Linked DNA regions of Homo sapiens. The protein of the gene in region 2 interacts with the protein of the main gene of each other region in a pairwise test. Each region holds a gene or a part of one and is shown on either strand. Other genes may lie near its edges. The genes, in order: MS4A3, CLDN6 and MAPK8.

Evidence for each region.
Region 1: the proteins of CLDN6 (region 2) and MS4A3 interact in binary tests that used the Homo sapiens proteins (3 or more experiments, as listed by UniProt).
Region 3: the proteins of CLDN6 (region 2) and MAPK8 interact in binary tests that used the Homo sapiens proteins (3 or more experiments, as listed by UniProt).

Annotation. Positions count from the first base shown.
Region 1 is NC_000011.10:60,059,570-60,063,219, forward strand, and holds part of MS4A3 (membrane-spanning 4-domains subfamily A member 3), read left to right. Parts: intron 1-1,576; 5' UTR 1,577-1,591; coding exon 1,592-1,747; intron 1,748-1,953; exon of another isoform or gene 1,954-1,985; intron 1,986-2,898; coding exon 2,899-3,036; intron 3,037-3,650. UniProt on the Homo sapiens protein: Hematopoietic modulator for the G1-S cell cycle transition. Modulates the level of phosphorylation of cyclin-dependent kinase 2 (CDK2) through its direct binding to cyclin-dependent kinase inhibitor 3 (CDKN3/KAP).
Region 2 is NC_000016.10:3,015,321-3,019,653, forward strand, and holds the start of CLDN6 (claudin-6), read right to left. Parts: upstream 2,864-4,333; 5' UTR 2,829-2,863; intron 723-2,828; 5' UTR 702-722; coding exon 39-701; 3' UTR 1-38.
Region 3 is NC_000010.11:48,313,030-48,316,679, reverse strand, and holds part of MAPK8 (mitogen-activated protein kinase 8), read right to left. Parts: intron 1-3,650. UniProt on the Homo sapiens protein: Serine/threonine-protein kinase involved in various processes such as cell proliferation, differentiation, migration, transformation and programmed cell death.

The DNA.
Region 1 (3,650 bases), on a different chromosome or scaffold from region 2:
TCCCCTCTATGTGTCCATTTGTTCTTAGCATTTAGCTCCCACTTATAAGTGAGAATATGTGGTATTTGGTTTTCTGTTCCTGTATTAGCTTTCTAAGGATAATGGCTTCTACTTCATCCATGTTCCTGCAAAAGACATGATCTCATTCCTTTTTATGGCTGCATAGTATTCCACAGTGTGTATGTACCACATTTTCTTCATCCAGTCTACAAATGATGGACATTTAGGTTGATTCTATGTCTTTGCTATTGTGAATAGTGCTGCAATGAACATTCACGTGCATGTGTTTTATGGTAGAATGATTTATATTAAGATCTTATTCTTAACCCAATCGATAGTTATGGCAGAATACAGCATCATTTTATGTGTTTGTTTATGGTTCATCTCATGCCATCTCCCTCATCAGTTATAAAAGCATATAAGCATTTTACAACTATTTTGTGTAGGAGGGTACTATGAATTAGGAAGTTATCTTGCCCAACATTCAGAAGTCCAATGTAAGCATTCTGTGTGTACTTTAGTGATACATATTTTTCAGCTGTAATGATTGAGGTGGTTGTTTTGTGACCCTTATATATATACAAACTTGAAGTCCTTTTTGTTAGAAGGCAGAGTATAAGTTAAAAGCTGATACCACCTGTTCACAGGTTGAGAATTCCGTACATTATCAAAGTCAACTCTCGCAATGTTAATATAAAATTAAAATTATTCCCATTTTTACAGAAGTGAAAACTGAGGTTCCCACTACAAGGTCATGCAACTAGTAAGTGATGAAATCTGGATTTGAATTGGAATCTTCCATAGTGCTTAAACTCTGAAAACTGAGGTTCCCATTACTAGGTCATGCAACTAGTAAATGATGAAATCTGGATTTGAATTTGGATCTTCCATAGTGCTTAAACTCTACCATGCTATGTTGGTACTCAGAAAGACGTCTTCTATATAGTACTATATAATGTGGTGATTTGAAAAATATTGGACCTTAGAGTAGAATGTTTTTAGTAAAATCTGAAATGATTTATAAGCCATATGAGTTTGGGTAAGTTTCTCGGTCTCTCTATACCTCAATTTTTTTCATCTGTGAAACGGGAATAATAATAATATTATAACAGGATTAAGTATATTAATACATTCACAGCATCCAGACAGTGCTTGGCATATAGTAATAAGTACTAAATAAATGACACCTACTATTATTACTGGAATGTGACTAAAGCCATTATTCTTATAAAGAGACCACTGCTCAGAGAAACCATATGTCTGGTTGCCCTTGACTGACTTGAAGAAAGGCAGGGACTATATATCAGTGCATGCAAAATGAGAAAGAAATTGCTCTTTACCATTCCAAAGTTAAGTGAAGCACCAAGGCCTACTACAATGACCCGATGATGTCTACTACTCCAAGGCAAGACAGAATTGAATATTGTACAAACTCTGTTACTCTGCCCTGGTGTCCCATTTGTGGAGAGTCATTGTAATGTATGGACAGAATTGAACCCTTCTGTAACACTCAAAATTTTAGTAGCTAGTGGAAAAAGGGAAAGCATGAAGGCTTTGGATTTCTTTTCTATCACAGCCATAAACAACCCCAATGGCCTCCCACGAAGTTGATAATGCAGAGCTGGGGTCAGCCTCTGCCCATGGTACCCCAGGCAGTGAGGCGGGACCAGAAGAGCTGAATACTTCTGTCTACCAGCCCATAGATGGATCACCAGATTATCAGAAAGCAAAATTACAAGTTCTTGGGGTAAGTCAGCCTTAGTTTAAACACTGATTTAAGAGGGAAGAAAATAAATACAGTTGACCTGTGAATAACGTGCGTTTGAACTGTGAGGATTCCCTTACATGTGGATTTCTTCCACCTCTGTTTGCCATCCCGAGACAGCAAGAACAACCCCTGCTCTCCCTCTTCTTCCTCAGTCTATTCAACGTGAAGAGGATGAGGATGAAGACCTTTATGATAATCTACTTCCACTTAATGAATAGTAAATACATTTTCTCTTTCTTATGATTTCCTTAACGTTTTTAGTTTCTCTAGCTTATTGTATATAATATGTCACATACAAAATATGTGATAATCGACTGTTTATATTAATAGTAAGACTTCTGGTCAACAGTAGGCTATTAGTAGTTAAGTTTTTGGGAAGTCATAAGTTTTACGTGGATTTACCACCATGAAAGGGTGGGCATTCCAAACCCCAATGTTGTTCAAGAGCCAACTGTATCATGTAGAAAACCTTGCTTATGCTGAGAAGGAGGAAATTCTGAGTTATTTATCACTGACTTAATAATGATTGGAGAAAAGACAGGGACTTCTTATAGATCTGGGGAGCAGAAATGCAAAGGCATTTTCTCATGGTAGAAAACATCAAACCTTGGAGAACAGATTCCAAGACCCTTCATTTTTTGTTTTGTGCCTTTTGACCAGCCATTTGAGGAGGCTGAGCTCTATGAAGCTTATATTCTATATTTTAAATTTAAAAATTGGGTTGAGAGAAGGGTTAAAAATTGGGTTGAGAGAAAGGCTGAGTAGGATATGGCTTATCCTCTGTCTGCCTTCATCATATTATGATGCAAAAGCATGCTGGGAAGAGACTTTGACTCCATCTACCTTACCAATCATGTCTGTTTTACTGTCCTGCCACTTTCTGAGAGGAGTTCGTGAGAATGAACAGAAATGTGGGGGAGAGGTGAAGACAAAATGCTGCCACTGGAATTGGTGTGGATAGCGTGGAATAAAAAACTCTTTCAGATAAGCTCTCGTTCTGTTAATTTAGGCTTGACACTTTAACCATTTCAAGCACCGACATCTCCTTTCTGAGGAAAATTAAAATGGCCTGTTTTCAGTGTCCACTTTAGTATATGACTGTTACGCCTTTTTCCCCTTTCTTCTTTCAGGCCATCCAGATCCTGAATGCAGCAATGATTCTGGCTTTGGGTGTCTTTCTGGGTTCCTTGCAATACCCATACCACTTCCAAAAGCACTTCTTTTTCTTCACCTTCTACACAGGCTACCCGATTTGGGGTGCTGTGTTTGTGAGTATTCGTACTCCCCTGGCTATATGTTATTTCTTAGATACCACTGCTGGAGATGTGTTTGATGACAAAAATATTGTTTGTAGGTTATTGGAAGGTTGCATGCTGTGGTTTTGATTTGCAATTCTTGATATAAACAATTAGAGACGATAAACTCTTTTTTATTTTTTAATTTAATTAATTACTTAATTAATTTATTTTTTGAGACAAAGTCTCGATCTGCCATCCAGGCTGGAGTGCAGTGGCATGATCTCTGCCCACTGAAACCCTCTGCCTCCCCAGTTCAAGTGATTCTCTTGCCTCAGTCTCCTGAGTGGCTGGGATTACAGGCATGCACCACCATGCCCACCTAATTTTTGTTTTTGTATTTTTAGTAGAGACAGGGATTCACCATGTTTTCCAGGATGGTCTCGAACTCCTGACCACAAGTGGTCCTCCCAGCTTGGCCTCCCAAAATGCTGGAATTGCCAGGCATGAGCCCTGATGCCAGGCCAAAAATCTCTTTCTGATTAAGAGAAACCACATTTGCCAAGTACAAATGAAGTCCTAAAAATTATCTTATATATAACTATATGTTACATTTATAGATACTTAAAAAATTGAATGAAAAATGG
Region 2 (4,333 bases):
TGGCTCTAGCGCCAGCGGAGCCCCCATTCCCCTCCACGTCAGACGTAATTCTTGGTAGGGTACTCAGAGGGCCCCCGAGAGATGGCAGGGGCAGATGTTGAGTAGCGGGCCATGTAATGGCTGGGGCCCTGGGACCCCCCCGAGGGGCAAGTGCAGCACAGCAACCCCCCACCCAGCAACAAAAGGCCTGAGGCCGCCCAGCCCAAGTAGAGGGAGGCCCCCAGCTCCCGCTTTTGGGCCTCAGCCACCAGGGGGTTATAGAAGTCCCGGATGATGGCATGCGCCGTCCAGCACACGGGGATTAGCGTCAGGACCCCTGAGATGACAAAGACAATCCCAGAGGTGAGCACCAGGCGGGCCTTGGAATCCTTCTCCTCCACACAGGTGGTACACTTGGCCCCAGCAAGGTAGACCAGCAAGCCGAACAGGGCCACAAGGAGGGCGATGACACAGAGGGCACGTGCAGCCTGCAGGTCCTGTGGCAGCGCCAGCAGTGAGTCGTACACCTTGCACTGCATCTGGCCGGTGCTCTGCACCACGCAGGACATCCACAGGCCCTCCCACACCACCTGGGCCACCACGATGCTGTTGCCGATGAAAGCGGTCACCTTCCACATGGGCAGGGCACAGGAGACCAGGCCATTCACCCAGCCCAGCAGTGTCAGGACGACTCCCAGGATCTGCATTCCGGCAGAGGCCATGGCGAGGTTGAAGGAGCTGCACTGTGTTTGGGACAGAAGCACAACAAGGTGAGGCCTGGCAGGCCCAGACCTCAGGCCACATGTGGACAGGACTCTAGGGGCATGCACCCTGGAAAGTGGTCATCACATCCTGGAACTCAGTCAAGACATGCTCCCTGAGCCTCACTTCTCGTGGGCAAAATGGACACTTAATGCTTTAGCATTTATTATTCTTTCTAGTTATGTGACAGGCACTGGCTGATGACAGTGACTGTGCAAGCAGCCCTGCCCTGGCTATCCTGAATGCAAATGAAAGATAACAGGATGAAACCTATACAATGACAGTCCAAGGCCAGAGCCAGTGATCAGGCTGCAAGGCGGCAAAAAGCAGGATGACAGGACGGTGCGATTTCCAAGCAGTTTCCGTGTAGAATGGTTCAATTCTAGCCCTGAGTTTAAGGCTCAAAACTTGTCCATTTGTTTTGTTTGTTTGTTTGAGACGAGGAGTCTCGCTCTGTGGCCCAGGCTAGAGTGCAGTGGTGCCATCTCCACTCACTGCAACCTCTGCCTCCCAGGTTCAAGCGATTCTCCTGCCTCAGCCTCCCAAGTAGCTGGGATTACAGGTGCACACCACCACGCCCGGCTAATTTTTTTTTTTTTTTTTTAAGACGGAGTCTCGCTCTGTCGCCCAGCCTGGAGTGCAGTGGCGGGATCTCGGCTCACTGCAAGTTCTGCCTCCCCGGTTCACGCCATTCTCCTGCCTCAGCCTCCCGAGTAGCTGGGACTACAGGCGCTCACCACCACGCCCGGCTAATTTTTTTGTATTTTTAGTAGAGACGGGGTTTCACTGTGTTAGCCAGGATGGTCTCGATCTCCTGACTTCGTGATCCTCCCGCCTCAGCCTCCCAGAGTGCTGGGATTACAGGCATGAGCCACCACACCTGGTCTTAATTTTTGTATTTTTAGTAGAAACAGGGTTTCATCAAGTTGGCCAGGCGGGTCTCGAACTCCTGACCTCAGGTGATCTGCCCGCCTCAAGCCTCCCAAAGTGCTGGGATTACAGGTGTGAGCCACCGTGCCCAACCAAAACTTGTTAATTTCAACACTAAGATTGGAGATCCTAAGCTTCCTCCCACCACCCAATGTCCCTCACAACTTGGTTCCACACCCCAGGCTGGCAGACACCAGGACCAGGAGAGATGAAGAAAAGCATCATTAATCCCCCATCTAAAAGCAGTTCCTCCCCCAAAGCCAGTGGATAACTCCCTGGCCCCACCCTTCTGACCTGCCCTAGGCGCCGGAGAGCATAGCCTCAAGGCTGAGGGCCTTTTCCTATGAATTCTAGACGAAAATGCCGTGCTAGACTCCCCTCAACACCAGTTCTCCCACCGCCACCTGGCCTGCACCTGTGTCCCCTCAGTGTTGGAGGTCGTGGAGGGAATCACTTCTGACTAGGGCCGGGCTGTGGCCTCCCACTGCCCAGAGTACTTTCATTGTACGGCTTGGACCTAAACTTTTCCCGGCCGGCAGCGGTCGGAGGGCAGGCTCTACTCATTAGCCGGGGGCCCCAGGCCTGGGCGGAGCAGACCACCTTGGGGAGACTGGCTGGGGCACGGTGCCCCAGCGCTCAGGTCCGGCCCTTAGGCCTCTGGCCGAGTTAGGGTCGGGGCCGCGCTGGTATAGGCGCCCAGGCCTCTCCCCTCTGAGTGTGCCCCTGCCCCTTTCTTTTTCATGCACTGCATGAAAAAGACTCTGTCCGAGGGCGCCCCGGCCCACCCGACCACCCCAGCCTGGGAGCCGCGCGCCCTGGAGGGGTTCTATAGCTGCAGTGGCCGCAAGGTCCGCTCCCCCAGGTGAGGGGGAGGGGGGAGGGGCGCCCCGCCCCGAGAGGCAAGGCAGGTGGGGGAGGGGCGCCAGGGGTTTCGGAGTCTTTGTCCCTGGGGAGGGGGGAGGGGCGTTTAACCCTTGGGAGCCCCGAAGGACCCTATCACCTCGGAGGCTTGGGCGCGGACCGGCCGACCCCCTCAGGGACTCGCCCATCCAGGTGGCCGCAGCCCGAGTTCGCACGCACCCCTACCCACGCCGCCACCACCCTGCACCCGGCCCCAAGAGGCGTCTCTCCAACACGCACACTAGCCCCGGACTCACCTGCGAAGGAGATAAGGGAAATTCCTAGGCCGAGTGTCGGGACAGGGGCGGAGGCGGGGGTCTTAAAGAAGCGGTGACGTCACTGGACCACCGCCCCGGAGGAGGGGCAGAGACCCTGTCCCTGACGGCAGCGGGCGTGCGAATCCCAGGCTTGTCAGAGGGGGGCGCTGGAGGCTGGGGTCGCTGGGCCCGCCTCGGGCTGGCAGACGTCCAGACTCACCCAGGGTGAGGGCGCCAGGCTTAGGGTAGAACAGAGCTTGAGACTCCGCTTCACCACTTAAGCAGCGCGGTGACATGGGGAACTCACCTAACCTTCCCGAGCCTTCGTTTCCTACTCTGCAAAATGGAGATAACAAGTCTGCATTTTATTATGTAACTACGTCCTAAGGTACAAATTAAAGGGCATACTATTGGTATTATTTTAGAGAAATATTTTCACTGTGTCACCCAGGCTGGAGTGCAGTGGTGCGATCACGGCTCACTGCAGTCTCGACCTTCTGGGCTCAAGCGATCCTCCCGCCTCAGCCTCCTGAGTAGCTGGGACTACAGGCAGCACACGCCACCGTGCCCAGCTAATTTATGTTTTGTTTTGTATAGACAGGGTCTTGTTATATTGCCCAGGCGTCTCGAACTCCCGGACTCAAGCGATCCGCCCGCCTTGGCCTCGCACTGCGCTGGGATTACCGGCTTAAGCCACCGCGCCCGGCCAGATAATATTATTTTTATGTTGCTGGTTTTTTGTTGTTGTTGTTGTTTGTTTTTGAGATGGAGTCTCGCTCTCTCGCCAAGGCTGGAGTGTGGTGGCGCGATCTTGGCTCACTGCAAGCTCTGCCTTCCGGGTTCACGCCATTCACCTGCCTCAGCCTCCAGAGTAGCTGGGACTACTACAGGTGCCCGCCACCACCCCCGACTAATTTTTTTGTATTTTTAGTAGAGACGGGGTTTCACCGTGTTAGCCAGGATGGCCTCGATTTCCTGACCTCGTGATCTGCCCGCCTCGGCCTCCCAATGTGCTGGGATTACAGGCGTGAGCCACCGCGCCCGGCCTGTTTTGTTTTTTGAGATGGAGGCCCTCTCTGTCGCCCAGTCTGGAGTGCAATGGCGCTATCTCGACTGACTGCAACCTCCGTCTCCCAGGTTCCAGAAATTCTCCTGCCTCAGTCTCCCGAGTAGCTGAGATTACAGGCGCCCACTACCACGCCCGGCTAACTTCTTTCTTTTTTTTATTTTTAGTAAAGACGGGGGTTCACCAAGTTGGCCAGGCTGGTCTCGAGCTCCTGACCTCAGGTTTAATTGTTATACCCCCCGGGCCCTTAACAAAGCTGTAGTGGCCAGGCTAACCTGGGCAACATAGTAAGACCCTGGTCTCTACAAAAAATACAAAAATTAGCCGGACGTGGTGGGGCAGGGCCTGTGGTCCCAGCTACTTGGGAGGCTGAGGTGGGAGGCTCACCTGAGCCCAGAGAGCCGTGATCGTACCACTGCACTCCAGGCTGAGCAAGAGT
Region 3 (3,650 bases), on a different chromosome or scaffold from region 2:
ACTCACTCTTTGCACCCTCTCACTCCTGTGCTTTCCTGACTTGATTTTTGCATTTTTCCAAGCTTAAGACCCTCCTGTCTACATTCATTCACTTCATACTTCTCATATCTTGACCTCTACTTTGACTGCATGCTCTCTGACACCAGACTAAATTATATTTCCGGGAGCTGCCTCTGGGTGCTAAGCACATAGAAAGCAGCCTATACACATAGTCACACCTTGCTTAAGGACGGGGATACCTTCTGAGAAATGCATCATTAGGCAATTTCGTCACTGTGCAAACATCATGGAATCTACTTACACCAACCTAGATAGTACAACATACCTAAGCTATAATATGGTGTAGCCTACTGACCCTAGGCTACGAACCTGTACAGCAGGTTACTGTACTGAATACTGCAGGCAACTGTAACACAATGGGAAGTATTTGTGTATCTAAACATAGAAAAAATAGAGTAAAAATATGGTATAATTTTATGGGACCACTGTCACATATGTGGTCTGTAATGGACCGAAACCTCACCATGTGGTGCATGACTGTATCATCAAATAAGACACAAGGCAGTTAACTGCTAATCCTACATTCACTATCAAGTGATCCCCAACTTGTCCATTTAACATTTTGAAAACCACAATTCATTTCAAGTTACATTAACTTTAGAGAGAAAACTTCACACTACTTTAAGTATTCCCATAATCCCTCCCTAATTTCATTATTATTCATAACATTTAAATACTCAACAGATAAACAGATATTTTGGCTCATTTTACATATAATGGAGGAAAACTATAATCTTCTAAAATCACCACTATAAATGCAATAAGAAAAAATATAAGAGTATAAAAAGTTGGGGGAGGGAGGAGGTAAAAATCAAAGGAAACAAAAAAGCTGGCATGACATAAGAAAAATAAAAAATTCAACTACAAAACTATTAGAAATAATAAATATTCTACAGGGGGCTTATTATTTAATATATGAAATATTAACTAATATACAAAATAAAAAGCTTTCTTATATATAACCAGATAGAAGATAAAAGTGGAAAAAAAGATGCCATTTCCAGCAAAAAAAAAAAAACTTAAATATATAAAACAGCAAAAAAAAATTTTAATGTTTAAAAATGCTATCAGGAACTCAAAATGAGACTTCAACAAATGAAAAGGTTGTTTTTCCTATTCTTGGATATAAAGGTACATCATAAAGCTGTCACTTATTCTATAAATACAAAGAAATCCTAACAGTACACTGAATCCATTTAATAGAAGCCAATCACTGGGGAGCAAGGTAACTTGAAAAGGATGTAAGAAAAGGTTCTGGGTGATGGAAGTGTTCTGTATTTTGATCTGGGATTGCACAAGTGTATACAAAGGCAAACTTATTGGACTGTAATGCTTGTGCATCTAGCTGTGCATAATTTTACCACAATAAAATAAAAAAAGTGATTCCAACAGAAAGACTGGCAGAGGAGGGGTACAGACTAGACTAGATGGGTTGTTTTTAGAAGTTCATATAAAATAAACAAGATAGAAGCCAGAAAAAAACTTCTGAAAAGGAAGAGAAATAAAAGGGAATTAGACCTAGCAGAAAACACAGCATAAACTACAATAATAAAAACAGGATGGCTCAGGTCCCAAACAGGCAGATGGGTCAATGGAAACAATGGTACCAAATACACGTGGAAATTTTGTAAATGGTAAAGGTGGCATTTTAAATCAGTTAAGACAAAGATGGATTATTTAATAAATGGTGTAGGGACAAATGGATGGATATCTGGTGAAGAAAATAAAGTTGGAACCATACATAATAGCCTACCATAGAATGGAAAACAGCAAATTGGGGAAAAACATTTCCAAAAAATAGCATGGAGCCAATTTGTAAAATTAATCCTACAAATCTAGGAAAATGAGCAACAAAGCAATAGAAAAACATGCAAAGACAAGGACAGTTCAAAAGAAAGAAAACACAAACAGCCCTTAAAAGATGAAAGACGTCTAAGGGTAATAAGAAGCAGGCATCCTTACACAGTGCTGGTGGAATGGAAGTTGGACAACCTCTACAGGCTACACTTCAGCAATACATAAAATTACAAATGCACATACGCTGGCCTAGGAACTCTACCTCTGGAAATTTATCCTATGCATTTAAGTGCAACACGACGTATGCACAAGGTAATCCACTGCACCATGGCTTTTGATAGCAAAAGTCTGAAAACTACCTAAATATGCATCAGAAAGGAGTTAAATGGTATACCAGTATAATGATGTTATGGACTGTCTGTGTCCCTCCAAATTCATATGTTGAAGGCCTACCCTCTAACTTGATAGTATCTGGAGGAGAGACCTTTAGGAGTTAACTAAGCCTCTCATGACTATATTAGGTCATGAGGGTGGAGCCCCCATGATAGGATGAGGAACAGACTAGAGCTCTTAGGGGCCATGTGAGGATACATCCAGAAGCCGGCCACCTATAAAGCCAGGAAAAGGACCCTCACCAGGGAACCAAATTGACTAAGTAGCCTAATCTTGAACTTCCCGACCTCCAGAACTGTGAGAAATAAATTTCTGTTGTTTAAACCACTCAAGTTATGGTATTTTGATATAGCAGCCCAAACAGAGTAAGACAAATGGAATACCACAAAGATGTTAAAAAAGCATGCCATTTACATACTGATATGACTGATATAAAATAATCTCTCAGCTATATTAAAACAAAAAGCAGGCCACGTGCGGTGGCTCACACCCGTAATCCCAGCACTTTGGAGGCCAAGGCAGGTGGATCACCTGTAATCCCAGCTACTCAGGAGGCTGAGGCAGGAGAATCACCTGAACCTCGGAGGCAGAGGTGGCAGTGAGCTGAGATTGTGCCACTGCACTCCAGCCTGGGCAACAAGAGTGAGACTCCGTCTCAAAAAACAAACCAACAAGCAAAAAACAAAAAAGCAAAAGGTGATACATATTGCATGCAACAACTTACATTAAATAAAAAGGGAGGGAGCAGAGCAGAGGCTATACAGTACTGTATATATGTATGACACCTATCCTTCATTGGCAAAGCCAAAATCCATAAAGCTGTGAAAAATACGTTTTTAAAATAAGTTTAGTACAAACGTATTTGGTGGTAAAACCTGACGAGACGTAGCATAAGATTTTATAATCTTTATTCACCCTACTTGTATTTGTTATGCTTTTATAAAAATATTAATGTCTTTGATTATTTCTGGGTGTTGTTGTTGTTGTTGTTTTTTGAGACAGAGTCTACACCTCTGCCGCCCAGGCTGGAGTGTAGTGGCACGATCTCAGCTCACTGCAACCTCCGCCTCCTAGATTCAAGAGATTCTCCTGCCTCAACCTCCCAAGTAGCTGGGATTACAGGCGTACGCTACCACGCCCAGCTAATTTTTGTATTTTTAGTATAGACGGGGTATCACTATGTTGGCCAAGCTGGTCTCAAACTCCTGACCTCAGGTGATCCGCCCGCCTCGGCCTCCCAAAGTGCTCAGATTACAGGCGTGAGCCACCGCGCCTGGCCTATGTCTGTATTTTTTACAGAAATGTTAATGTGTTTAATCATGAGGCTACAACCTCTTACTAGGGATTTTGGATAACACGGTAGATGTGCTACATTATCTTTCCACAACTGCAAAAAAAGC